4 linked regions of the Homo sapiens genome follow. The protein of the gene in region 1 interacts with the protein of each later gene in a pairwise test. Each region holds a gene or a part of one and is shown in the gene's direction. Other genes may lie near its edges.

Region 1 (4,549 bases):
GAAAGAAAAATCGGGATGACCTTAATAGCTTTTCTGCAGAGCTCATGTGTGTGAGTGCAGTGAGGGAACTATGCTGCGGTTCTGTCAATGGTGGCATGCAGAAAAGCTGCCTGACAAAACGGGGCACTGAGTGTTGGCATCCTGTTGCCCTCCATTTTCTCAGGCAGGCAATGCCAATTTGGGGGAGATGAAATATTGACGTTTTGGTGAATTGCCTTTCCCCTCCCTGGGTTTACATAGCATTCACTCAATGCAGTTCTGAAGGCAAAAGGACCACTCTCACTCAGCAAATAAGGAAAAAGGCATGATGTTCTCATCTATTGCCAAACATTTCAGCATGAATATCTCCAAAAATTTTTAATAGATGTTTCCCCCCTCTGTTTTGTAAAGATAGTAAGGGCTGGTTTATGAAACCGATACGGAGACTAGGGACCTAATGTTGTCCCATAGCACATTTGGCCCACTTTTGGCATTGCTTATGTTTATGAACCTTTGACCACAGGTACATTGGAATTGTCTCTAAACAAGCACTATTACGGTAGGCTTAAAATTTAGACTATGTATTCATGAGGGAGAAGGACTCCAAATAGTAAGATGGGAGAAGGAAATGGGGCATCAAACAGGGAGAAGAGTCCCTTTGTCCCATAAAATTTGCAGTTTGGGAACTTCCAGAAGGATCAAAATACAATGGAAATGTCATTAACTAGAAGCTTGGGGGATAGTGTTGTTTAATTGACAGGTTTTATTTTTTGGTCTTTTAACAATTGGCAGGTGTTTGGGGAGTAGTGTTTTTTGATACCTCCTCCACATTACTACTGAACGTGTTCAGAGTTGCCTATTTGGACACTCCCGCTTTGGGAATGCTGATGAGATTGGGATCTTCTGCTCGAGTAGTGAGGCTAGATGGCTGAAGGCGTCCCATGGAACTGGGCAACCAAGTCTCTGTCCCATATCCCAGGACTATAGGGAGAACAAAGTGAGCTGACCTTGTCCTTAGCCCAGGAAGATTTGGAGGGAGGGATGAGTTGGAGCGTGCAGAATTAGCAATGCTTCCTTTCTCTCAAACTCTCAACTGGGCAAAGCTTTTTGAGAATTTTTGTGAATTTGGACAACATTTGTGTCCTCCTTCCACAAAGCTTCAAGCTGAAGTGTGAAGAGTGTCCAGGGCTTCAGATACCCTCATTTCCCAGCAAGACAATCCACAAACTCCCTGGGCCCCCTATAACGAGACTTGCCTTGCAATATACCATCTTTTTAATTCTCAAGGAGTTTCAGAAGATGAATGACCCCTTAGAATTTCTTGAAGGAAAGAAAACTTGTTTTAAAATACAATGTACTCTTACCGATTTTTTACTTTACACTGAAGATGGGCTTTTCAAAACGGGGGCCTCATCTTCTTGGTATGACTTTAAAAGGCACCCCCGCCTTTTTTTCCAAGCTCAGCTTCCCCCACGACCAGGGTGACAGTGGCCTAGTAAGTAGGAGTTGGTGGGCAGCTGGGTAGCTGATGGTCAAGTATCTGCAAGCAGACATGCCACACATAGCAATACCAGCAGGGATCGAGTCCCACTCATCAGCTACACCTGCACCCAAGAGTGGAAAAAGTAATATTACAGATAAAAGGAGAGAGACAAAGAAATAAGCCAAGCCAGAGCGTACGTAGCACATACTTGGAGCTCACTAGGGGAAAGGTGTGGTGGTCACCTTTCTAAGATATTTTAGTAGTAAGGAAGTAGCTTGTCTTGATACACCCGAAAAGGTTAAGGACATAGAGAGTTGCTTGTTGTGTTTTTTTCCATGATGAAATTAAATGCTCAGTATACTAAACCTGTTTCTTTTTTCCTCTGATTGAAGATTTGGTTTGAGAATAGAAGAGCCAAATGGAGGAGACATCAGAGGGCATTAATGGCAAGAAACATGCTGCCCTTCATGGCAGTGGGCCAGCCTGTCATGGTAACCGCAGCTGAGGCCATAACGGCACCCTTGTTCATCAGCGGGATGAGAGATGATTACTTCTGGGACCACAGCCATTCCAGCAGCCTGTGTTTCCCCATGCCACCCTTTCCTCCTCCGTCCTTGCCCCTTCCACTCATGCTTCTTCCACCTATGCCACCCGCTGGCCAGGCTGAATTTGGCCCATTCCCTTTTGTTATCGTGCCTTCTTTCACATTCCCCAATGTCTAAGGGATAGCCTCTGTGCCACTTTTTGCCAGAGTGTCTTTGAGCCAGATTCATATTTTGCATAGCACCCCATCAAAAGTAGTTCATCAAATGTCTATTAAACGTTTTAAAGAAAAGTACATCATTGACCCATTTTTAGGGCACTTGTAAAAATGTTTCTATAAATATGTGAAGGGTATGTACATTTGTTTTGTGTGTCACATGGGGTCAGTAAGTTCTCAATAAAAATTGTTAAGAAATGCCATTCAAACCGAATGTCACGGACTCTCGTCTCATGCAGTAATCTTGAGTCACCATCTGGGGGCTGTGCATGTCACAGAATTTTCCCATGTGCCCATGGCAGGCTTACACCGACCCAGACATTCTCTTCCACCCCCACCCCCAACACCCCATACTCATCTCCTCTCTGCCCCCATTGATACCAGGTACATGTGCAGGATGGGGTGGTGTGAGTCCCTAATGAGAGAATAGTGTGTTTCAAGTTACTGCCAGGGTGGAAAACAGCAAAACCAAAATGGTATCGGGAAGGAAGCCATGCCCACTCTTAAAAATTCATTAAGTTTTTTCTTGCTATGGAAGACTTCTTTAAAGTAATTTTCTTGTAAAAGTGTAAGTGTAAATAATGCCATGAAATTATACACTTATTTAATGGCTAAAATGGCAAATTTTTATATGGTTTACCACAACAAAAGAAAAGAAAAAATATACCAAAAAGTTTTTAAAAAGTGATCATGAACATTGTGGTCATCCTGTGAAGTGATTGCAATGCCTGCAGATAAGGAGTGATGGTTACAACAGTATTTTCTCTGAAAATTATTTGATGGCCAGTTTCATAATGATTATGTTTTCAGCCTGAAGGAAAATTCCATTTTCTTGGGTGAGCATGAACTTTCTGTCAGGCTGTCTGCTGCTTTTCATTCCCCACTTCTCTCTTCACAATTGTGGGTGTCAAGCTTCAGCCACGCAATTGCATTTGGTGTGAGGGTTTTGCAAGGAGAAGGAGGTTTATTCATACCCCTGAAGCCACAAGCCTTGGTGGGAATAAGGAAAGTCCATGAATTCACTATGCATTAATGCATGCCTCTTGGCCAAGTGGATTCTTTTTTCTTCTCCGATTGAGATTTTCCTTTTTTTTTTTTTTTTTTTTTTTTGCTCTTGTTCTCATTGTATTGTGCTTTGTATAATTATTTACAGTAAGTCGCGCATGTCAGTGTACATTCCGTCTGGAAATTGTTTCCATTTGGTACATTTTGTGCCAGTCGGTCTATTCCTGCTCATTATTTTGTTTTTTCTACATTCAGACTGAAACATTTGGTAGCCTAGAGATACTCAGAAATAGGCAAAGAAAGGTAAAAGGGGAGGAGGGGAGATTGAAATCATACTTCCATTATCCCTCCCCGTGGTTATCAGATTCATAAAATTTTTACACCATCAAAAGACATTTTTAGCCATATATGTTTCCTTTATGTAGAAAATGAGATCTCCTATACTCAGTTGGCATTTGTTTTCATGTATCTGATAAGTACCTGTTAGAATTATAGGTCAAGATGTTGTCTAGCTCTGGTAACCTAGATCCTGAACTTCAAAGCAGAGTTCTTGGACCTTAAGAAATTCAAATTCGTAGAATTATAGTTAGGATGTCATTTACTGACCTTGAACAACACATTGTTTAGGTAGCATACAATGGGACTAGTTCAAGGGGCTGGGTGGAGAACAAGTTACAATTTTTTCTGATGGAGAACATTACTGGAGACAGTACCCTTTAAAACTTTCATTCCCTTTTTATTAGCAGCTAACGTCTTGTATGCCTTTACTATGTGACAAGCAATAAAATAATGTCCTTGGATGATTTTGTTTGATGCTCAAATGAATCCTAATAGTGAGGTTCTAGCATCTTCATTGAAAGAAGAGGAAACTTATCCATGGTGCAAAGCTAATCAGAGGAACAGGATCTGAAGCCAAATTTGTCTGCCTCCAGAGCCCATGCTTTGTCAAGTTTAATTCAGCGGTGGTGCACTGGGATGCCACAGTTAGGGCAATCTGGCTTCCAATCCCAGATGCACCACTTCCCAGCTGTTTCCCCCTGGGCATTTTACTTAAGCTCTGTAGTATCATTATTATTCTCTATAAGATGATAATATTATATCACAGAATTGATGAGAGGGATAAATAACATATGTAAGTGGCCTTCCACAATGCCCAGCCAGAGTAAGCACACAGAAATGTTTTCTACTATTATTCTATATTATCTCCTATCATCATATTATTATAACCTGTTGTTCCACCTTTCCTATGTGGTATAACAGAAAGAGATCTGATTAAAAATAAGGTGGTCTGGGTTCTTGCTGCAGCTCTACGCTGTCTTTGT
Region 2 (7,031 bases), on another chromosome or scaffold:
ATCCATTATGTATCGGGAGTAATCATTTTTGTTTTCATATTTCCAAGCCTTTGAACCAGGGTAAAGCATATATTTTTATGTGACCATTGAAATAGTTCCTCCATCATCATATGGCAAAAATAAATTTTAGGATTAGCACTGAATTTAAAAAATAAATTCAAAATAGACATTTACTGAAGGACCGAGTGTCGTCACTGAAACGATAGGGTTTACTTCAGCACCTGGACTCTCTCCCCTGTGACTCGTGAAGCATGAACTGGTAGCACTCCCTCCTCGTTTGAAGGGCTTTGCTCTAAGTTGAGAAACGAGGGCATTGCAGCAGCAGGCAAGCCGCCTCTCCCTGGTAGGCGGGGCAGCAGGTTGCGTAACCAGTATTTGTACGGGGAGGACTGAAGCCTGGTCTCCGTCTCCTCTCTTGCTCTTCCTGTCTTCAGGTTAAATGGAATATTTTTCTGAAAAACCTTGAATTTTGTAGTGTTCAGTCTTATGACGAATTGAAAAGCTGGCACGAAGAGGTCCTGTGTGTCTCACCCATGTCCCCTGGCCGACGCTCCCCTCCCCGGGAACAGCTCTCACAGCTGTGGCGCTGAGCTGGGGGCATGACTGTTGGCTCCAGGTTTTATTTGGCTGTCCTGGTTTTTCGATGACTGTCCCCTGCTGTCCCAGCACCCTGCCTTGCGTTTAGCCATCATGTCTGCCATCTCCAATCTGGGACCGTCTCTCAGGCTTTCCTTGTGTTTTTGGGACCTTGACGGTTTGAGGACGACTGACTGGTCAGGGATTTTGTCAGATGTCTCTTAATTGGGGTGTGGGTTTTTGGGAAGAAAACCCAGATGTGAGGCGTGTGTCATCTCGGGGAGCTGGACGCGCACCTGCCCCGCCACATGGCGCTGGCTGCGGTCCCCGGGCTGCGTGGGGCTGATGAGCTCCATCCGCAGGGAGCTGCTTCTCCCCTTTTCGTGTTCTATCCACACGGTTTATGTTTAAAAACCCTCTTTTCCTATTTGCCATTTTATGGTTAAATCCTTGTTGAAAAATGACACTTGATCATTAGGCCTTTGGATATAATTTTATTTTCTCCCAGTAATGAGCAGTCCCACTGTCTTTAACGGACACCTAAAGAGTGCAGAGCAAGGAGATGGAGCGCTGGACGCCTTCAAATACCGGGACAACCAGGATCCAGAGCAGCGAGGGACCCACAGTGCTCCCTCAGAGGCCTCTGGACCCCACGCCCACACGTCCCTGTGACCACCCACACCCTCCCCCGACTGGCTTCTCCATGCTGCTGTCTCCGGGACATGAGTCGCCTGTCTGTCCCCCACGTGTGGCCAGGAGGGCATGAGCCACCTGTCTGTCCCCTACGTGTGCCCAGGAGGGCACGAGCCGCCTGTCTGTCTGCCATGTGTGCCCAGGAGATACGGTGCTTTTCCTGCCATGTCCTCAGAGCTGTGCATGTGGCACACAGGAAGCAGTTGTCACAAATAAACAGGAATTTGGCCTGTGTATGTTAGTCCTGAGAACTTGGTTAGCACGAGTCTGTTTCTGCAAGATAACCCGTTCCTGGTGAGCAGACAGAGCTAGTCATAGAGCCTGCTGGCATGGGCTGTGCCAGGGCCCTGTGGGGTTGGCAGGGAAGCACGTCCTGTGTGGCCAGGTGTCCCCCGGGGAGAGAGCTCTGGGCTGTGAATCCTTCTGGGAGGCAGGCGAAGGGCCCTGGCCTTCTGTACCCCAGTGTTTCCTGTGTGCCAACAGGAACAGGTGCTTAGCATCTCGTGCCATGGGGCCTCTCAGCGCCCTCCTGAGCCAGAGCTTGCTGTTGAGCTGTACAGCGCCTCGAGAGAGGCTGCCTGGGGGAGGCTGGCCTGGGACTCCTGGCATGGGCCCACTCCGCTCAGGCACCTCTGCACCCTCCTCGATTGTCCGTAAGGGCAGGGGGTCCCTCCGGGCCCTGGCCTATGCCACACCCTCCGGAGGTGAAGCCGGGGTGCTCTGCTTGTTCTCGCAGTACGGCTTCTCTCACAGGGCAAAGGTCACTCGTGACGTGTCCCAGTCAAAAACGGGGTAAAGTGTGGGGAAACGCACAAAGTGTGTTTTGCTTTTTAGAGAAGAGCGGTTGAGCACACGCCATGCTGGCTGCTCAGGTTGGGGTGCAGCCTGCAGAGAGCTTCCCGAACTTGGGGGTCCTGAGTCCGTAACTGCTCGAAGCGGTGCCTGGATCGTCCGGGTCCCTTCTGTTTACTCACATTGGTTGTGGAGCGCTGACTGGCTTGTGCGCTCCAGGCCTTAGATGGGGACACAGGTGAGGAGCTAGACCCTCTCGGGGTCCTTTGAAGTGCCAGGCGCCCAGAGCACAGCAGGTGCAGGGCTTAACTCAGAACCTCCTGGAGCCCTGCCTGGCACCGTGTCATTGGGAGTCCATGGCACAGGCAGGTACGGGTTTCTGGTGTGCATGGCAGAGGCGTTCTGGCGGCCTCAGCACGTGCACTTTGCCTAAGCTCACGTCCGACACACCGAGGGTTCCAGGTTCCACTCGGTATTTCCTGAAAACAACTGCCCAGGGCACTGGCGCTGACCGGGGCCCCTGCAGACGGCTGGGTCTCCACCCCACTCCACCAGCAACCAGGCCTCCACCCCACTCCACCAGCAACCAGGCCTCCACCCCACTCCACCAGCAACCAGGCCTCCACCCCACTCCACCAGCAACCAGGCCTCCACCCCACTCCACCAGCAACCAGGCCTCCACCCCACTCCACCAGCAACCAGGCCTCCACCCCACTCCACCAGCAACCAGGCCTCCACCCCACTCCACCAGCAACCAGGCCTCCACCCCACTCCTCCATCAACCAGGCCTCCACCCCACTCCACCAGCAACCAGGCCTCCACCCCACTCCACCAGCAACCAGGCCTCCACCCCACTCCTCCAGCAACCAGGCCTCCACCCCACTCCACCAGCAACCAGGCCTCCACCCCACTCCACCAGCAACCAGGCCTCCATCCCACTCCTCCAGCAACCAGGCCTCCACCAGCAACCAGGCCTCCACCCCACTCCACCAGCAACCAGGCCTCCACCCCACTCCTCCAGCAACCAGGCCTCCACCCCACTCCACCAGCAGCCAGACCCATGCTCAGGGCCTCATCAGCGACCTTTCACCTGTGGAGCATGGTTTACCCCAGGCCCCTTCGGCCGCTGCAGGTGTGCGGGTGGTTTCGGGATGGCATTGTCCTGCCTGGGCCCATCCTCTCTCTTCCCCTCAGAAGTGGCAGTGGTGGACAGAGGGTCGAGGAGACATAGGATGCAGAGTGGGGAGGTCTTTCGTGGTTGTTTGGAATCGATTTACTTCCTGCGTTCTTCTGGGATACTTTTGAATTTCAGCTGTTTCATGTGGAAACATTTGAAGTATATCAGCAGAGGGTTTTCCAAATCACTTTAGACCTGAGGCTCAGCTTTTGTCTCATTCGTTTGACCAAGTGACCTGCAGTTCAGTGGCCCTGCCTTTAGCTGTGGACAAGGAGAAAGAAGCCGTGGGCACACATGGTGCAAGGGAGACCCTTTAAAATGACCTGAAAACCCACCTGAGCAGGCTTTGAGGACAGGAACCCATTTTTAGCGGCAGAAACCTGCATTTGGGGATCTCCTGAGTGAGGGCTGCACCTGTACCGCTGGGGGCCAGGCCCCAGGCTGGACACCCTTGACCCCTCCGTTTAGAGATGAGGAAACTGAGGCTGAGCACAGTCCAGGACTTGATAAGGACATGGGTGGGGGCGGGGCCGCGGGAATGCCGGGGGCAGCTGCTGTCGGGCTGCTTTGTGCCCCCACCCTGACTCACTGGCCTCTCTGGTCCCCGGCCCCGCAGGTGTACATCGGTGAGCTCCCGCAGGACTTCCTCCGCATCACGCCCACACAGCAGCAGCGGCAGGTCCAGCTGGACGCCCAGGCGGCCCAGCAGCTGCAGTACGGAGGCGCAGTGGGCACCGTGGGCCGACTGAACATCACGGTGGTACAGGTGGGCCTTGGGGCACCCTCCTGCCTGCCTGGGGCTGGTGCGCTCGGTGGGGGTGGGATTTCGGATTTCGGCGTTTATACTGCATTTCCTAAGCGGGCAAACAGAACTTCTGATTCCCGCTTTTCCTGAAACCTGTGTGATGTTGAAAACGATCTGTGTGAAAGATATTGGCATTGACCCCGGGTTCTACCAAACATAACTCAAGTGATGAGTAGTGGGTGTAGGTGGGCGTCTGCTCTGTGTAGGGCCTGGCTCTTCCACCAGGCTTGAGTACGCCCAAGGACACCTCCCGGACCCCCGCCGGCAGCTGGAGGAGGCGCGGCCGGCACCCCCGCCACCTGGTGTGTGCTGCGTGAGTGGCTTCCTGTTGGCCTCAGTGCCGGTGCCTGCACCCTCCCTCCCCACAGAGCAGCCCTCGGTCAGCCTCGGGGCCGGCCCGTGGTTGCTTAGTGGTCTTTCAAGTGAAAGCCAAAATCGGCAGATTGAACGCCGATTTTGATCACACGAAAACCGTCTGTAAGACTGCAGGAAAAGGAAACACACTGTGAGCCACGCAGGCTTTCGTAGAAATGCAGGGAAAGGAGACACACTGTGAGCCACGCAGGCTTTCGTAGAAATGCAGGGAAAGGAGACACACCGTGAGCCACGCGGGCTTTCGTAGAAATGCAGGGAAAGGAGACACACCGTGAGCCACGCGGGCTTTCGTAGAAATGCAGGGAAAGGAGACACACCGTGAGCCACCCGGGCTTTCGTAGAAATGCAGGGAAAGGAGACACACCGTGAGCCACGCGGGCTTTCGTAGAAATGCAGGAAAAGGAGACACACCGTGAGCCACGCGGGCTTTCGTAGAAATGCAGGAAAAGGAGACACACCGTGAGCCACGCGGGCTTTCGTAGAAATGCAGGGAAAGGAGACACACCGTGAGCCACGCGGGCTTTCGTAGAAATGCAGGGAAAGGAGACACACCGTGAGCCACGCGGGCTTTCGTAGAAATGCAGGGAAAGGAGACACACCGTGAGCCACGCGGGCTTTCGTAGAAATGCAGGGAAAGGAGACACACCGTGAGCCACGCGGGCTTTCGTAGAAATGCAGGGAAAGGAGACACACCGTGAGCCACGCGGGCTTTCGTAGAAATGCAGGGAAAGGAGACACACTGTGAGCCACGCGGGCTTTCGTAGAAATGCAGGGAAAGGAGACACACTGTGAGCCACGCGGCTTTCGTAGAAATGCAGGGAAAGGAGACACACTGAGCCATGCGGGCTTTCGTAGAAATGCAGGGAAAGGAGACACACCGTGAGCCACGCGGGCTTTCGTAGAAATGCAGGGAAAGGAGACACACTGTGAGCCACGCGGGCTTTCGTAGAAATGCAGGGAAAGGAGACACACTGTGAGCCACGCGGGCTTTCGTAGAAATGCAGGGAAAGGAGACACACTGTGAGCCACACGGCTTTCATAGAAATGCAGGGAAAGGAGACACACTGAGCCATGCGGGCTTTTGTAGAAATGCAGGGAAAGGAGACACACTGTGAGCCACGCGGGCTTTCGTAGAAATGCAGGGAAAGGAGACACACTGTGAGCCACGCGGCTTTCATAGAAATGCACAAATACAGCAGGCAGAAGAATCGCCGTGGACCTCACAAATAAGACTTGCTTTCAGGGGCTTCATGGTGTGGTGAGCACAGCTACACCGTCACCCCTTCCTCGCGGCGTGTCTCAGACCCTTGCTTGTGCAGCTGTTACTGTGCTGGTGTGGCCGATCCCTCTGCCCACCCAGTGAACTCCCGTAAGCCCATGCATTCCTGTGCCAGCTGCCACCAGGCCAGCCAGTGCCATCACCCGTCCTCAGCCGCCACCTCCTGGCAGGGCCTGGTGACCGCAGGGCACTCCACCTCACACAGTTCAAGCTCCAGAGCTGGCTGGGCCTTGGAGGTGGCCCTGGCGTTGCCCACGCCTCTGGCCCCCCTTGGTCCTCTCCCGCACCCTGGAGCCCACCACAGGCAGCCTGTTTCCTCCACGTGAGCTCACCCAGCCTTCTGTGGCGCAGCTCCAGTGGTGGGAAACATTCCTGCCTCCTCACTGGGCCAGGTAGCTCAGCCCCTGTTTCCTGCTTCTCTTGGCTTCTGGGCGGCCACACAGGTGGTTCCCTGCTTGCGTCCCCTCGCTGCTTCCCCTTGTTGTCTCCTGGGGCCCCAGTGGGATGCCAAGGGGTCTGGTCCTCAGCCCTCCTCCCCTCTCTGCCCACACATCCCGGTGACTTCTGCATCCCTGTGGGTCTAAACACCCATGTGCTGGCCCCAGCCTGAGCCGACCACTCAGCTCCACCCCAGATCCCTAGGTACGGACCATGGCCACATGGCCTCCCCAGGTGTTCCGTGGGCACTCCGGACTCCGTGTGCCCAAGGTGGAGCTCTCGGGCCACCCTCCCGGCTTCTCCCCCGTGTCCGCAGGTGGCTGCCCCACACTCTGGAAGCTGAGGCCCAAAGCCCTCGTGCTGCTGGTGCTCCAGGTTCATGTCCACCTCTTGCCCTTCAGGCCTGACCCTCAGCACAGGCGCCACCTTCAGCCCGTCCAGGCCTGGAGCCCCCCGCACCCACCCACTGCCCCCGCTCAGCCCCTGCAGCGTGGCCAGAGTAGGTCCGTTCCCGCGTGGGCCTTTCTCGTGGGCACTGTCCTGCCGAGCCTGCTCCAGCTGGGCCCATGTTTTCCTCACCCTAGTCACTCCTGACCTTCCTCTTCCCTGGCCGTTCTCCTCCCGCTTCCTGCAGCTCTTCCTCCAGATCCTGCAGCCCGCATACCCGGTCCTCCTAGCTGGTCACTCCCTGCAGTGGTAACGCCGTCTGCTGCGCTGTGTGTCTGCCGCGCATCTCTTGCCCATTGTGGGGAAAGCAGCGGTGCCCGTGTGTCCCCACGGTGTCTGCTGTCTGACGTGCGTCTCTTGCCCGTTGTGGGGGAGGCAGCGGTGCCCGTGTGTCCCCACGGTGTCCACAGTGTCTCCTGCACCAGAACAGCATGTGGTTGTGTGCAGTC
Region 3 (7,031 bases), on another chromosome or scaffold:
TAGTTGTAAAATAAAGTATGTGTACAAGATGATTTCCCTTGTAATCCACCCACCTCGGCCTCCCAAAGTGCTGGGATTACAGGTGTGAGGCACCGCACCCGGCCAAGTTCTAAGTTACCTTCTAAAAGTTATAAGTCCAGTTCACTGTCCTTAAGGTGCATGCAATCTATGTGGGGAGACAAATGGGCGAAAAGTTTTTTTTAAAGAAGCGTGCATTTTTAAAGAAGTGTGAGAGTATTACATGAATATACTTAATGTTTATTCATTGAACTAACATTTATTAAGCAGCTGCTACATCCCAGGCACTGTTTTAACCCTAAGAGATATAATAGTGAACAACAACAACAAAAAACCCTTGCTGTCATGGAACTAATATTGAATGGAAAGAGACATCTAATAAATCAACAACTATAATTGTGTGGTGATAAGGGCTAAAAAGAAAAAGCAGGGAAAGGGAGAGATGGAAAGGGAGAGAATGAAGATGGTTACGGAAGGGCTTTAAGATAGATGGCCTATGAGTGAAGTGAGGTAATGGGCCATTCAGATGCTTTCGGAAAGAGGGTTCAGGTAGAGGAGGTGAGGGTGCACAGGCATTGAGAAAGACTGCTTGGTTTGTTTGGAAACAGGAGACCAATGTATTAATAGCTGGAGCAGAGAGAGCAAGGGCAGGTAGTCTTAGGAGATGGTATCAGTGGTTTAGAAATATCTATAGGCCCTATGTAAATACACACTTTAAAAATCTTAGCCGGGCGCAGTGGCTCACGCCTGTAATCCCAGCACTTTGGGAGACTGAGGCGGGTGGATCGCCTGAGATCAGGAGTTCGAGACCAGCCTGGCCAACATAGTGAAACCCGTCTCTACTAAAAATACAAAAAATTAGCCAGGCGTGGTGGCAGGCGCCTGTAATCCCAGCTACTAGGGAGGCTGAGGCAGGAGAATCACTTGAACTCGGGAGGCGGAGGTTGCAGTTAGCTGAGGTTGCGCCATTGCACTCCAGGCTGGGCAACAAGAGCGAAAATCTGTCTCAAAAAAATAAAAAAAATCTTATCGTAGCCAGTGTTTTGGGTATGTGGGTTTGTCTTAAAGTACACGTCTTTTTTTTCTTTTTTTTTGAGATGGAGTCTCACTGTTGCCCAGGCTGGAGTGCAGTGGCTTGATCTCAGCTCACTGCAACCTCTGCCTCCTGGGTTCAAGCAATTCTTATGCCTCAGCCTCCTGAGTAGCTGGGATTACAGGCATGTGCCACCACACCCCGCTAATTTTTGTATTTATAGTAGAGATGAGGTTTCACCATGTTGGCCAGGCTGGTCTCGAACTCCTGACCTCAGGTGATCGCCTGCGTTGGCCTCCCAAAGTGCTGAGATTACAGGCATGAGCCACTGCACCTGGCCTGTTTTCTTAACACGTTTTCTAACTCCTTTTGTGAAGCCTTCCCTGACAGCTTAGTTCACACCATTCCGATCCTACTCTTGCCTCTTGGTATATTGATGCTTAATTGTGTGTCATCTTTTATTGTCCCTTAATTGTTTTATTATTCTTGTTTCACTGCTAAGATTGTAAGCTTCTAAAAGATAGGAACTATATTTCCTTTGTATTTATCCTTCGTAATACCTAACAGTTTTGGGTACTTGGTAAGTGCTCAATGCCTGTTAAATTGAAATTGAAATTTACCTTTTACAGATAGTTAAGGATTAAGAAAAATTGTGAAATTCCAGAGTGAGGGTATCATCACAGAATTTTCCAGGCACTTTGAATGTCAAAGGATTAACCGCTTTTTATAGAATAAGTTCATTTACTGGGGTCATTCCCAAGGCTGCTTACTAAATGGAGCTGTAGTGCTAAGCGTTAGATTCCAAAGTTGAATCTTGTTAAGTTGTACCACTAAGCTTTTGGAGTAAATCATCACTTACCAAAATGGAGTTTAGGAAACGCCAGAGAGTCTGTGATGCTTTTGTTATAATCCTTAGGCTCAGAAGGAACCCTAGGAGAAAGAGAGGAAGGGTCGGTGCTTTCAAAGGCAGTATACAGAAACTTGATGTAGGTGGAAGAGGAGTCAGTGCAGCCCTGGAAAGAGTACAGAAATAGAGAAACGTGAACCAGAGAGTAGGAGGGAAGTGACAAACTCAACTGGAAAGCTGATGTACAGTTTGAGAAATGTAGTTAAAGAGAGTACTTGGAAATACTGTACTCAAAGTTTGTGGGAAGTTAAATGAGTTAAATATAGGGCTATTAGAGGTTCATTTCACTTTAAGTTTAATATGTATGAAATTTACGCTCTATACAATGTAGTGGGGAATGAATTCTTTTGGTCAGCTTTTCTAGTGAACAATTTGATTCATAAAAATTTTATTTTTGTGCAGTTTTCTAAGAGTTTAGCTGCTGTATAAGGTAAGATGTACCTTATTACTTATAGCTTTCAGCAGAATTCTTTGTGTCAGTGAAATGTTGATATGGTATAATTATTATATGGCCAAGTAACCGCTTCTCACCATAGAGTCATAAATCCAGTTTAGCCAAGTGGGTTCAGCAGTTATTCCTATTAGCAGCTGATTCTAGTAGTAAGATGACTTTCTTTCAGGTTTCAGGGAAGGGGTTCCAGATAGCCTGAAGTTGCTTTGTAGATGCTGTGTTTATTGAAGTAGTTTATCTTCCCATTTGCTTATTTATGGGCTTATTTCCTCATAGGTGGATGTCTCTTTGTGCCCTCATTTGGTATTTGGTGCTGAAACTAAGCATGGTGCTACCATTCAAGAAGAGTTATAAAAATATTGTGTTTTTTTTTTCTTGCAAGTAATTTCATGAACAATATTTCACTGAAATTACTGAATTTTTCATCTCTCCCTGTCCCAGTGTCCTTGGGCTGCCACAGCAAAATACCATAGACTGGGTGGCTTAAACAACAGACATTTATTTCTCACAGTTTTGGAGGCTGGGAAGTCCAAGATGAAGGTGCCAGCAGATTTCATGTCTGGTGAGGGCCCACCTTCTGGCTTGTGGATAGCTGTCTTCTTGCTGTGTGTTCACATGGCCTTTCCTTTGTCTGTGCCCTGGGGGAGAGAGAGTCAGTGGTCTCTTCCTCTTCTTATAAGGGCACTCATTTATCATGTAGTTCCCACCCTCATGACCCAATCTGAAGCTAATTCTAGAGGTCCTACCTCCAAATACCATTACACTGGGGTTAGGGCTTCAACATACGAAATTTAGAGGGACACAGACATTAAGCCTGTAACACTACCAGAGTGGTAAATATTGTAGATGGAGAAACTGAGGAACAGTCATGTAAAACTTGTTGCTTTTTTCCCCATGTCTTACAAGGAAGTCTGCAGATGTAAAACTGGAAATGTATTTGAGAAGGAGAAAGTCAGATCTGATTTCAAAGTAGAATTATTCTTCAGGGTGACTCAAGAGATTAGCTTGAGTTGAGTTTGTCTCCCAACTCCCTCCCATTTTCTAGCTACTCTGTCATTTTTTTTTCACTATCACGCTGACATGTGAACACAACAGAAGCTAACTAGAAATTTAACTTTCATTTTGCTGTAAAGCAGACTGGTGCAGACAGGCCTCAAGTTTACAGGACTGCTGAGAAAGAAATTGAGTTATGCTACTTTGTATAAACAAGAATGTTGCTAGTGAATCTCTAGTTTAACATCTCTCAGGCCTTCAGTTTGATGTCAGGCTTTAATAATTTGTAGAAAAAGACAGTCATTTTAGTAAGCAGATTTCTTTGAATTTTTGTTGATATACATTTGTAAAGCATAGTAAACATCTTTATTCTGGGGCAAATGTGCACTTCCTTCAAAGGCAGGAGGGAAGAACCACAGACATGATTGGAAGGAAATGGCAGTAATTGGAGCATGAGCAGACAGATGGAGTGAGGGATGGTGAGTACATTTGGTGTTTTAGGTGGCCCCTAGGAGTATTGAGTTTCTTCTTATTCTCCTCTACAACCCCAATACAAGCAGGCAGCTTACATGGCTAAGGTTTCATTATCTAATCCATCACAGATCAGCTTGAATAAACCCATTGGCTGATGCTGATCTAGTTAGGAAAGTAGCAAAGCTGCTTGAGCCAGGATTGGGACAAATCGGATCAGAACTGCCATGTGAATCCTGGACGCATTTCTGTAATTTGGGTGGGCAAAGTAGTTTGGGAAGTCATTTACTCAAGAGAATGAGCAGTCAGCCATGAGTTTTTTCAAACATTGTCTTAGGGACTCTGAGGGGAAAGTGTGTGGAGGATTTGAGATATTTCTCTGGAGGATAGCCAGATTGCTTTGATTATTTGAGTCTGAACATTTTTTGGTCACTAATGCTCAGAAGTGACCTTTTTTTTTTTAGTAGCATTTGGAGATTCCAGTTGTGATCGTTTGTCACTTTTGTGAGTGATCCCTTAATCTGAGACCGTAGGATATATGTCCCTTCTCTGTTTTTATTTTATTTTTATTTTTTATTTTTATTATACTTCAAGTTCTAGGGTACGTGTGCACAACGTGCGGGTTTGTTATGTATGTATACATGTGCCATGTTGGTGTGGCTGCACCCATTAACTCGTCATTTACATCAGGTGTATTTCCTAATGTTATCCCTCCCCCCTCCCCCCACCCCAGGACAGGCCCCATTGTGTGATGTTCCCCACCCTGTGTCCAAGTGTTCTCATTGTTTAATTCTCACCTATGAGTGAGAACATGCAGTGTTTGGTTTTCTGTCCTTGTGATAGTTTGCTCAGAATGATGGTTTCCAGCTTCATCCATGTTCCTACAAAGGACGTGAACTCATCCTTTTTTAGGGCTGCATGGTATTCCATGGTGTATATGTGCCACATTTTCTTAATCCAATTTATCATTGATGGGCATTTGGGTTGGTTCCAAGTCTTTGCTATTGTGAATAGTGCTGCAGTAAACATACGTGTGCATGTGTCTTTATAGCAGCATGATTTATAATCCTTTGGATATATACCCAGTAATGGGATGGCTGCGTCAAATGGTATTTCTAATTCTAGATCCTTGAGGAATCGCCACACTGTCTTCCACAATGGTTGAACTAGTTTACAGTCCCACCAACAGTGTAAAAGTGTTCCTATTTCTCCACATCCTCTCCAGCACCTGTTGTTTCCTGACTTTTTAATGATCGCCATTCTAACTGTTGTGAGATGGTATCTCATTGTGGTTTTGATTTGCATTTCTCTGATGACCAGTGATGATGAGCATTTTTTCATGTGTCTGTTGGCTGCGTAAATTTCTTTTGAGAAGTGTCTGTTCATATCCTTTGCCCACTTTTTGGTGGGATTGTTTGATTTTTTCTTGTAAATTTGTTTGAGTTCATTGTAGATTCTGGATATTAGCCCTTTGTCAGATAGGTAGATTGTAAAAATTTTCTCCCATTCTGTAGGTTGCCTGTTCACTCTGATGGTGGTTTCTTTTGCTGTGCAGAAGCTCTTTAGTTTAATTAGATCCCATTTGTCAATTTTGGCTTTTGTTGCCATTGCTTTTGGTGTTTTAGTCATGAAGTCCTTGCCCATGCCTATGTCCTGAATGGTATTGCCTAGGTTTTCTTCTAGGGTTTTTATGCTTTTAGGTCTAACATTTAAATCTTTAATCCGTCTTGAATTAATTTTTGTATAAGGTGTAAGGAAGGGATCCAGTTTCAGCTTTCTGCATATGGCTAGCCAGTTTTCCCAGCACCGTTTATTAGATAGGGAATCCTTTCCCCATTTCTTGTTTTTTGTCAGGTTTGTCAAAGATCAGGTGGTTGTAGATGTGTGGTATTATTTCTGAGGGCTCTGTTCTGTTCCATTGGTCTATATCTCTGTCTTGGTACCAGTACCATGCTGTTTTGGTTACTATAGCCTTGTAGTATAATTTGAAGTCAGGTAGCGTGATGCCCCCAGCTTTGTTCTTTTGGCTTAGGATTGTCTTGGCAATGTGGGCTCTTTTTTGGTTCTATATGAACTTCAAAGTAGTTTTTTCCAATTCTGTGAAGAAAGTCATTGGTAGCTTGATGGGGATGGCATTGAATCTATAGTTTACCTTGGGCAGTATGGCCATTTTCATGATATTGATTCTTCCTATCCATGAGTCCCTTCTCTGTTTTTAAAGGGGAGATATTTTTATTACTAACCTTAATATGTAATCATATTTGTTATCCATATATACTTGAAATATGGTGTAGTAAATAAACACCATTTAGAGCTTCTCATTTTGGGATTTGAATCCTGGCTTCTCCATTTACCAAATGAATGAGCTATTCAACATCTCTGAGCTCCTGCTCACACATCTGTGAACTGGGAGAATTAATGTATACTCTTATAAACCACTGTAATGAGAACTGAGATTCTTTAAGGTGCCTATCAAGGAACCCAGCACTACATGTTTATTTCTTGCTTTCCTTATATCCTGCTATACAGCACTCACTAACTTCCTGCTTACTGTTTAATCTGCATGGAGTGGTTAATGTGCTTCTGATTGATTAAGTGCCAGAGTTGGGAACTACTAGAGATGAGCAGTGTGTTAAAGGGGAAACCTCATTTGCTCATTATCCAGGGTGGAGGAGTGGAATGAACTGGGTCATTGTGGTCTCTCTTGTCAGAGGAAGGGGAGACAATTCTTTGCTAAGGAGTGAAAGGACTGCTGCAGTATCACAGTGTCTGCAGGGGGGATGTGGATTTCTTAGAACCCGTGGGATCTCTGTTGGGAGGGTGGGTGACAGATTCACTGGCTGTTTTAGTGGTACATGGAAGGCAGGAACAGTAAAAATGTCGTGTTTCAAATTTTATAAGTTTTGTTACGTATGTTGGTTCAAAAGTGGCACTTTTTGTTCTCATTTTGTCTATGGAAATTGAGCTGGGATGCCTTTGTGTTGTCTCTTGTGGTCCCTTTTCAGTCTCTTCAAACCCGCTCTCCAGACTGCTAACACAGTGATCTATCTAAAAGAGCCAATCTGGCCAGGTGCGGTGGCTCATGCCTGTAATCCCAGCACTTTGGGAGGCTGAGGCGGGCAGATGACTTGAGGTCAGAAGTTCGAGACCAGCCTGGC
Region 4 (7,388 bases), on another chromosome or scaffold:
ATAAATTTTGTTTCAGAGTCAAACCATGAACTGAATTCCTTCCCAAAGTTAGTTCAGCCTACGCCCAGGAGTGAACAAGGACAGCTTAAGGGTTAGAAGCAAGACAGAATCAGTTAGGTCTGATTTGTTCCGCTGTCATAATTTCCTGAGTTACAAATTTGCAAAGGCGGTTTCACAGGGGCCGTTCTGTTGAGGAGGGGTGTGCCTCCTGAGGCTGGCTGAGGGCAGAGGTGGAAGGTTTGGAGGCTAGAAATGAGAGTTCCCAGGTAATGGCTTCTATTTTCTCCAAAAAGTAGTAGAGAGATCTTTGCTGGGGGAGAGGGGCGGTGGAATGGGGGCTTGAGAAGACTGGAGGCTTTGTTTTGTTTTGTTTTGTTTTGTTTTGTTGAGACAGAATCTCACTCTGTCACCCAGGCTGTAGTGCAGTGGCGTGATCTCAGGTCACTGCAACTCCCACCTCCTAGGTTCAAGTGATTCTTCTGCCTCAGAATCCCAAGTGGCTGGGGCTACAGGCATGTGCCACCACACCTGGCTAATTTTTTTTTGTATTATTACTATTTTTTTTTTTTTGAGACGGAGTTTCGCCTTTGTTGCCCAGGCTGGAATGCAATGGCGCGATCTCGGCTCACTGCAACCTCTGCCCCCCTGGGTTCAAGTGATTCTCCTGCCTCAGCCTCCTGAGTAGCTGGGATTACAGACACACGCCACCATGCCCAGCTAATTTTGTGTTTTTAGTACAGACGGGGTTTCTTCATGTTGGTCAGGCTGGTCTTGAGCTGCCGACCTCAGGTGATCCACTTGCCTCAGCCTCCCAAAGTGCTGGGATTACAGGTGTGAGCCACTGCCCCGGCCTTTTTTTGTATTTTTAATAGAGACAGGGTTTCACTGTGTTTCCTAGGCTGGTCTCGAACTCCTGGCCTCAAGTGATCTGCCCACCTCAGCCTCCCGAAGTCCTGGGATTACAGGCATGAGCCACCGTGCCTCAATGACTAGAAGCATTTGAAATGCCCTGAGGGGAGTGGGCAGGGGACACAGGGAAACAGGATTCTTGGGCTGGGTGAGAGCCCAAGTGAGGGTAGAGACCCTGAGTTTGCAGTTGCCCCAACCTGCCCCAAAACAAGATGGCTATTGGGTTTTCCAGGCAGGTGTGATGGGAAAACTCTGAGGCAAGAAAGTTAGTAACAGGCTGGACTCCTGGGGAGGGTGGGAGGACTTGGGGGAAGAGGAGGACTTGAGGCCAGGGAAGAATCAGGAAGCCCCCTGTCTTAGTCCGTTTGGGCTGCTATAACAACATATCTTAGACTGCATAATGTATAAACAACAGAAATTTATCAGCCGGGTGCAGTGGCTCACACCTGTAATCCCAGCATTTTGGGAGGCTGAGGCAGCTGGATCACCTGAGGTCAGGAATTCGAGACCAGCCTGACCAACGTAGTGAAAACCCATCTCTACTAAAAATACAAAAAATTAGCCAAGCATAGTGGTGTGTGGCTGTAATCCCAGCTACTCAGGAGACTGAAGCAGGAGAATTGCTTGAACCACCCCCCAACCCCTGGCCAAAAAAAAAAAAGAAATTTATTGCTAATAGTTCTGGGGGGTTGGGAGGTCCAAGGTCAAGGCGTCAGCAGATTTGGTGTCTGGTAAGGGCCCGTTCCTCATACCTGGGGCCTTCTAGCTGTGTCTTCATGTGGCAGAAGGGGTTGACAAGCTCCCCAGGCCTCTTTTTTCTTTTTGAGACGGAGTCTCGCTCTGTTGCCAGGCTAGAGTACAGTGGCATGATCTTGGCTCACTGCAACCTCTGCCTCCTGGGTTCAAGCGATTCTCTTGCCTCAGCCTCCTGAGTAGCTGGGACTACAGGCACGCGACACCACACCCAGCTGATTTTTGTATTTTTAGTAAAGATGGGGTTTCACTATGTTGGCCAGGATGGTCTTGATCTCTTGACCTCATGATCCACCCCCCTCAGCCTCCCAAAGTGTTGGGATTACAGGCGTGAGCCACCGCATCCGGCCCCCAGGCCTCTTTTATAAGGGCACTAGCCGCATTCAGGTGGGGCAGCCCACCCAATCAACTCCCAAAGGCCCCGCCTGTTTTTTTTTTTGTTTTTTGTTTTTTGTTTTTTTTTTTTTGAGACAGAAGTCTCGCTCCGTCGCCCAGGCTGGAGTGCAGTGGCGCGATCTCGGCTCGCTACAAGCTCCGCCTCCTGGGTTCACGCCATTCTCCTGCCTCAGCCTCCTGAGTAGCTGGGACTACAGGCGCCCGCCACCACGCCCGGCTATTTTTTTCTATTTTTTAGTAGAGACAGGGTTTCGCCGTGTTAGCCAGGATGGTCTTGATCTCCTGACCTCGTGATCCGCCCGCCTCCGCCTCCCAAAGTGCTGGGATTACAAGCGCGAGCCACCGCGCCGTGCCGGCCCCGCTTCTTAATACCCTGACATTAACATTAGGTTTTCAACATGTGAGTTTTGAGGGTCACGGACATTCTGACCATAGCACCCTTGGACCAATAGGACAGGCAGAGGCTGTGGAATGACTCTGGGGTGGGTGAAGTAGGGAACACTGCTTTGCTTTAGAAAGGGAATCCCTCTTCTGGGGCTGGGAGTGGCTTCCCGCAGGGGACTACCGTGCAAGGGAGAAGAAATCTGGCATCTCTCCAGAATGCTTCTCATTGCAGGGCCGCTGGCCTAGAAATGGCCTCAAATGGAAGCTGCCACCCGATCCTGGTGGAGGCTTTGAGCTAGGCTAGAGATCAGGACTCCAGGGTTCAGTGCGCACGTGCTGCCCCTGCACTAGGTAAGTTCCTTCCTCTATGGACCTTCAGCCCTCCCCTTGCAGTGGAGATAGTGTGCACAGCCCTGGCTCCCCTCCCTGACCCTGGGAAAAGGCTGAAGGGAGACCCCGTGCTGTTCCTAGGAAAGGAGATCTTCCCAGCGGTGGGAGGGTGAAGGGGGAGCCTCCCTCTCCTCCAGTCCTGTCTTCCCAGCCCCAGGGCGGAGCTCTTCCTGTGTGTAAGCCTCCACGCGGGAAAAGCTGCCAGTGCATTCATTCTCTCGAGGAATCCCTGCAAACCCTCCCAGATGGGTGGCGTTATCAGCCCGATTTTACCCGAGAGGCTCCTGAGGGAAAGGGACCTGTCTGAGGTTGGTGACAGACACCCAGTTCGATCCCATCTGTGGTGCCGCCAGGCCGCTCCCTTTTCTGCTCCTCTCCCGAGAGGCTGCAGAGTTCTTTCCCTCCCAGCAGGGTCCTAAGGACCCCGGCGGTGCTCCAGGGGAGCCAACATCCCCTGCTTTGGAGGACGGACGGGTCGGGTCGCAGTGAGCAGCTCCGTGGTGTCCCCTAGTTCTACACTCAGACCAAGAGAGGGCTGTGAGGGCTGTGCTCTTTTTTTTTTTTTCTTTTTGAGACGGAGTCTCGGTCTGTCATCCAGGCTGTAGTGCAGTGGCGCGATCTCGGCTCACTGCAACCTCCGCCTCCCGGGTTCAAGCGATTCTCCTGCCTCAGCCTCCCAAGTAGCTGGGAGTACAGGCACCCGCCACGACGCCCGGCTAATTTTTGTATTTTTAGTACAGATGGGATTTCACCATCTTGGCCAGGCTGGTCTTGAACTGATCTCAGGTGATCCTCCCGCCTCGGTCTCCCAAAGTGCCGGGATTACAGGCGTGAGCTACCACGCCCGGCCTGGCTGTGCTCTCTTAAAGGGCCGAAGCAATGCGGGTGCTGGCGACCGACGCAAGGAGGTGACGCACAGGGGACTTAAGGAGCGGACCGCCGCGGGAGGACGCGCCCAGCTCAGGGGGACTCCCTCTGCGCCCCCCACGCTGGGTCTCCGGCCCACGCGTGGCCCGGCTGGTCTGCGGAGCTAGCGCCAGGGCCGCCAGAGGGCGCCCGGGGCGGAGGATGGGGCGGGAGCCGGGGAAGCCCGGGAGGTGGTGGCCGAGTGGGCGCCGCCCCTCTGGGTCTGCGGCTCAGGTCGAAGAGTCGGCTGCGTGGGCCGGGGAATCCGGATTCCGGGGGTTCAACGCCCAGGGGTTCCATGAGCCCCTACTGTTCTCGGACGCCCGGCCGGCCCCGACGCACTCGTCCTAGCACCCCTCCCCTGTCCGGTCCTCCGGCCCCTCCGCCGTCGCCCCTCCGGGGTCCAGCCGGGCGGGGCTGCTCCAGGGTCGCGGCTGGCGCGGGTCCCCGGGCCCTGGCCCTCCGGTGCCCCGGGCCAAGGAGAGAAAACTTGAGCATCCACGCACAGGGGTGGGGAGCAGGATCCCACTCTGAGGGTGCACTGCCCCGCCCTCTCCGGGTCTGCCTCGGCCCCGCCCGGGCCCCAGGCCCCGCCCCCTCCCCTCGGCCGGCCCGAGAGCTCCGGGGGCCGCTGCAGCCGCCCAAGCGCCCGCCATGCGCGCTGCCCGCGCCGCGCCGCTGCTCCAGCTGCTGCTCCTGCTGGGGCCGTGGCTGGAGGCTGCGGGCGTTGCGGAGTCGCCGCTGCCCGCCGTGGTCCTTGCCATCCTGGCCCGCAATGCCGAACACTCGCTGCCCCACTACCTGGGCGCTCTGGAGCGGCTGGACTACCCCCGGGCCAGGATGGCCCTCTGGTGAGAGACCCGGGCATTGGCACCGAGTGGGCACCTAACCCCCAGCTTCGCAGATGGCCCCCGCCCCCGGCGGCCCTGTCTGCTCGCTCCCTGCCCAGACACCACCTAGACAGGCCCCTCCCCTCACAGACGGCCCTGCCAGCCCGAGCCGCCAGAGAGGACCCCGAGCCCCCTGCTGGGAGACGACAGACCTCTGAGGCCACAGGCCGACGCGGGACACCCACCCCTCCTTCTGGTCCCCTACTCCTTCCTCTTGGGGCCTTCCCTGGGTGTAGGTTGGGCCCAGCCAGCCCTTTTCACCCCAGCCTTCAGGGCCCAGCTCAACCCCAGTGGGACCTGTGGTTGGCTGGATTTGAAGAGGAGCAGACAGGAACCTCTGAAGTCCACTGGGGCCCAACGTGGCAGGGATCGACCACGCTGGAGGCTTCCGGGCACAGGTTGGGGGTGCCATCAGCACTGGGCTCCGGGCTGTGCAGGGGAGTCAGACCGGCCCCCCCACCGCCCCCGTGCTGGGGCCAGCTCTCTTGGTAGATCTTGGTAGAGGGGCGGGATCCTGTCAGCCAAGGGCAGTCCCCCTTCCTGGAGCCTCTCCCCTCTGGCATCTCTGTACCCCCAGGGCACTGGGATCGAAGGCCACAACCCCTGGTCTGTAGACACCAGAACAGGGAGGAGTCCCTGGCTGAGGTTGGGGGTAAACTGAGAAAAATGACAAGCCACCCTCTTCAACACACCACAGTTGGGCTGGGGGGGTGGAGCCCTGGCCTGGGGAGGCCGCCCACAATTACCACAGTTTGGGAGTTTGTTAGTTCCCACCCCTGTAAGACTTGACACGTAGTCTTCATTTCTGGGGAATTGGCTTAAAGGGGCAGCATCACCCAAAACCTGGGCACTTGGCTAAACCCCCACCTCTGTTATGGGGGCCCCTTCCCCAGGAGAGGGGAGGCTGTGCCCCATGACAGCAGAGCTTGGACCCATCTGCATTCTTAGGGACGCTTAGAGCATGGTTTGGTCCTTATTACAACCTGGGGGTGGAGGAAAGCAGCAGCTCTTCTGTCTAGTCCCCATTCAGAGAGGGACAGGGGCTGGCCTGTGGTCACACAGCCACAGGTCACATAGGTAGGTATCTGCCCACCTAACGAAGGTAACCAGGGAATGCACCAGGTGTGATCCTTAAAGTCGAGGTACTTTTCATCTTTCAAAATGCATTCGTTGGCCAGGTGTGGTGGCTCACGCCTGTAATTTCAGCACTTTGGGAGGCCGAAGTGGGCAGATCACCTGAGGTGAGGAGTTCAAGACCAGCCTGGCTAACATGGTGAAACCCCATCTCTACTAAACAAACAAAAATTAGCCGGGCATGGTGGTGCACACCTGTAATCCCAGGTACTCAGGAGGCTGAGGCAGGAGAATCACTTGAACCCGGGAGGCGGAGGTTGCAGTGAGTCGAGATCATACCACTGCACTACAGCCTGGGCGACAGAGCAAGATTCCATCTCAAAAAAAATGCATTATTCTTCTCTTATCTTTGTCCATGACATAAGCAGGACAGCTTAAGTTATAGAGGGAGGACGTGAAGCCCAGAGAAAGATGGGACTTGCCTGAGGTCACACAGCAGGTCACAGAACTGTGGTGGGGACCTGGCTGTGCTGCCTCCAGCCTCTCTGCTGTAGCACACCTACCCTTCACTGTTCCAAGGAGAGCTCGACCTCAAAGGTGTTAGTGCTTTGGGGTCAAGGCTGCCTTGGGGTTCAATCCTGTGGCTGTGCCCCCTCAGCCTTTTTTCTTCCCGTCCCCAGGTGTGCCACGGACCACAATGTGGACAACACCACAGAGATGCTGCAGGAGTGGCTGGCGGCTGTGGGCGATGACTATGCTGCTGTGGTCTGGAGGCCTGAGGGCGAGCCCAGGTGGTGATCTGAGGGGAAGGGTGCTGGGGAAGATGGAGAACAGCTGCAGCCCAGAGAGGAAAAGGGACAGCCCAGAGCCACAGCCTCCAAGCCAGGGCTCTGTCCACTGCCCTGCAGAGAGGGAGGGGCATGTACCCCATGGGAACATCTCACCTCTATCCCCTCAGGTTCTACCCAGATGAAGAGGGTCCCAAGCACTGGACCAAAGAAAGGCACCAGTTTCTGATGGAGCTGAAGCAGGAAGCCCTCACCTTTGCCAGGAACTGGGGGGCCGACTATATCCTGGTGAGGAAGTCTGGCTAGAATCGGGCTTCTGAAAGGCGGTAGTATCCGTCCCTGATAGAAATCTGGGTATAGGCTGGGTGCAGTGGCTCACGCCTATAATCCTAGCACTTTGGGAGGCCAAGGCAGGTGGATCACCTGAGGTCAGAAGTTCGAGACCAGCCTGGCCAACATGGTGATACCCCATCTCTACTAAAAATACAATAATTAGCTGGGCGTGGTCGCAGGCGCCTGTAATTCCAGCTGCTTGGGAGGCTGAGGCATGAGAATGGCATGAACCTGGGAGGTAGAGGTTGCACTGAGCTGAAATCATGCCACTGCATTCCAGCCTGGGTGACAAGAGTGAAACTCAGTCTCAAAAAAAAAAAAAAAAGAAAAAGAAATCTGAATGTGACTGACCCACCCGAAGGCTGGATCCTTCGGCAGGCTATCTGGGCCAGAGCCCAGACCAGATGTTCAGATTGGATCCCTATGTTAAAAGCTCAGACTAGGTACTAAGCCTGGACCCCTCAGATAGATCCCGTTGTATACACTTTACTGAGCCTCGATTTCTGGGCTAGAGCCCAGGGTATAAATTGAGCCTGGATCTCTGAACTAGAGCTCAGAGTAGGTG

What was found.
Region 2: the proteins of RHOXF2 (region 1) and TOLLIP interact in binary tests that used the Homo sapiens proteins (3 or more experiments, as listed by UniProt).
Region 3: the proteins of RHOXF2 (region 1) and RBFOX2 interact in binary tests that used the Homo sapiens proteins (3 or more experiments, as listed by UniProt).
Region 4: the proteins of RHOXF2 (region 1) and CERCAM interact in binary tests that used the Homo sapiens proteins (3 or more experiments, as listed by UniProt).

Annotation. Positions count from the first base shown.
Region 1 is NC_000023.11:120,161,604-120,166,152, forward strand, and holds the end of RHOXF2 (rhox homeobox family member 2), read left to right. Parts: intron 1-1,854; coding exon 1,855-2,184; 3' UTR 2,185-4,027; downstream 4,028-4,549. UniProt on the Homo sapiens protein: Transcription factor maybe involved in reproductive processes. Modulates expression of target genes encoding proteins involved in processes relevant to spermatogenesis.
Region 2 is NC_000011.10:1,292,618-1,299,648, reverse strand, and holds part of TOLLIP (toll-interacting protein), read left to right. Parts: intron 1-1,084; exon of another isoform or gene 1,085-3,121; coding exon of another isoform or gene 3,122-3,193; intron 3,194-3,854; coding exon 3,855-4,004; intron 4,005-7,031. UniProt on the Homo sapiens protein: Component of the signaling pathway of IL-1 and Toll-like receptors. Inhibits cell activation by microbial products. Recruits IRAK1 to the IL-1 receptor complex. Inhibits IRAK1 phosphorylation and kinase activity.
Region 3 is NC_000022.11:36,018,820-36,025,850, reverse strand, and holds part of RBFOX2 (RNA binding protein fox-1 homolog 2), read left to right. Parts: intron 1-7,031. UniProt on the Homo sapiens protein: RNA-binding protein that regulates alternative splicing events by binding to 5'-UGCAUGU-3' elements. Prevents binding of U2AF2 to the 3'-splice site.
Region 4 is NC_000009.12:128,416,486-128,423,873, forward strand, and holds the start of CERCAM (inactive glycosyltransferase 25 family member 3 isoform a precursor), read left to right. Parts: upstream 1-4,371; 5' UTR 4,372-4,392; coding exon 4,393-4,589; intron 4,590-4,718; exon of another isoform or gene 4,719-5,026; intron 5,027-5,037; exon of another isoform or gene 5,038-6,301; intron 6,302-6,382; coding exon 6,383-6,493; intron 6,494-6,660; coding exon 6,661-6,778; intron 6,779-7,388. UniProt on the Homo sapiens protein: Probable cell adhesion protein involved in leukocyte transmigration across the blood-brain barrier. Does not express any beta-galactosyltransferase activity in vitro.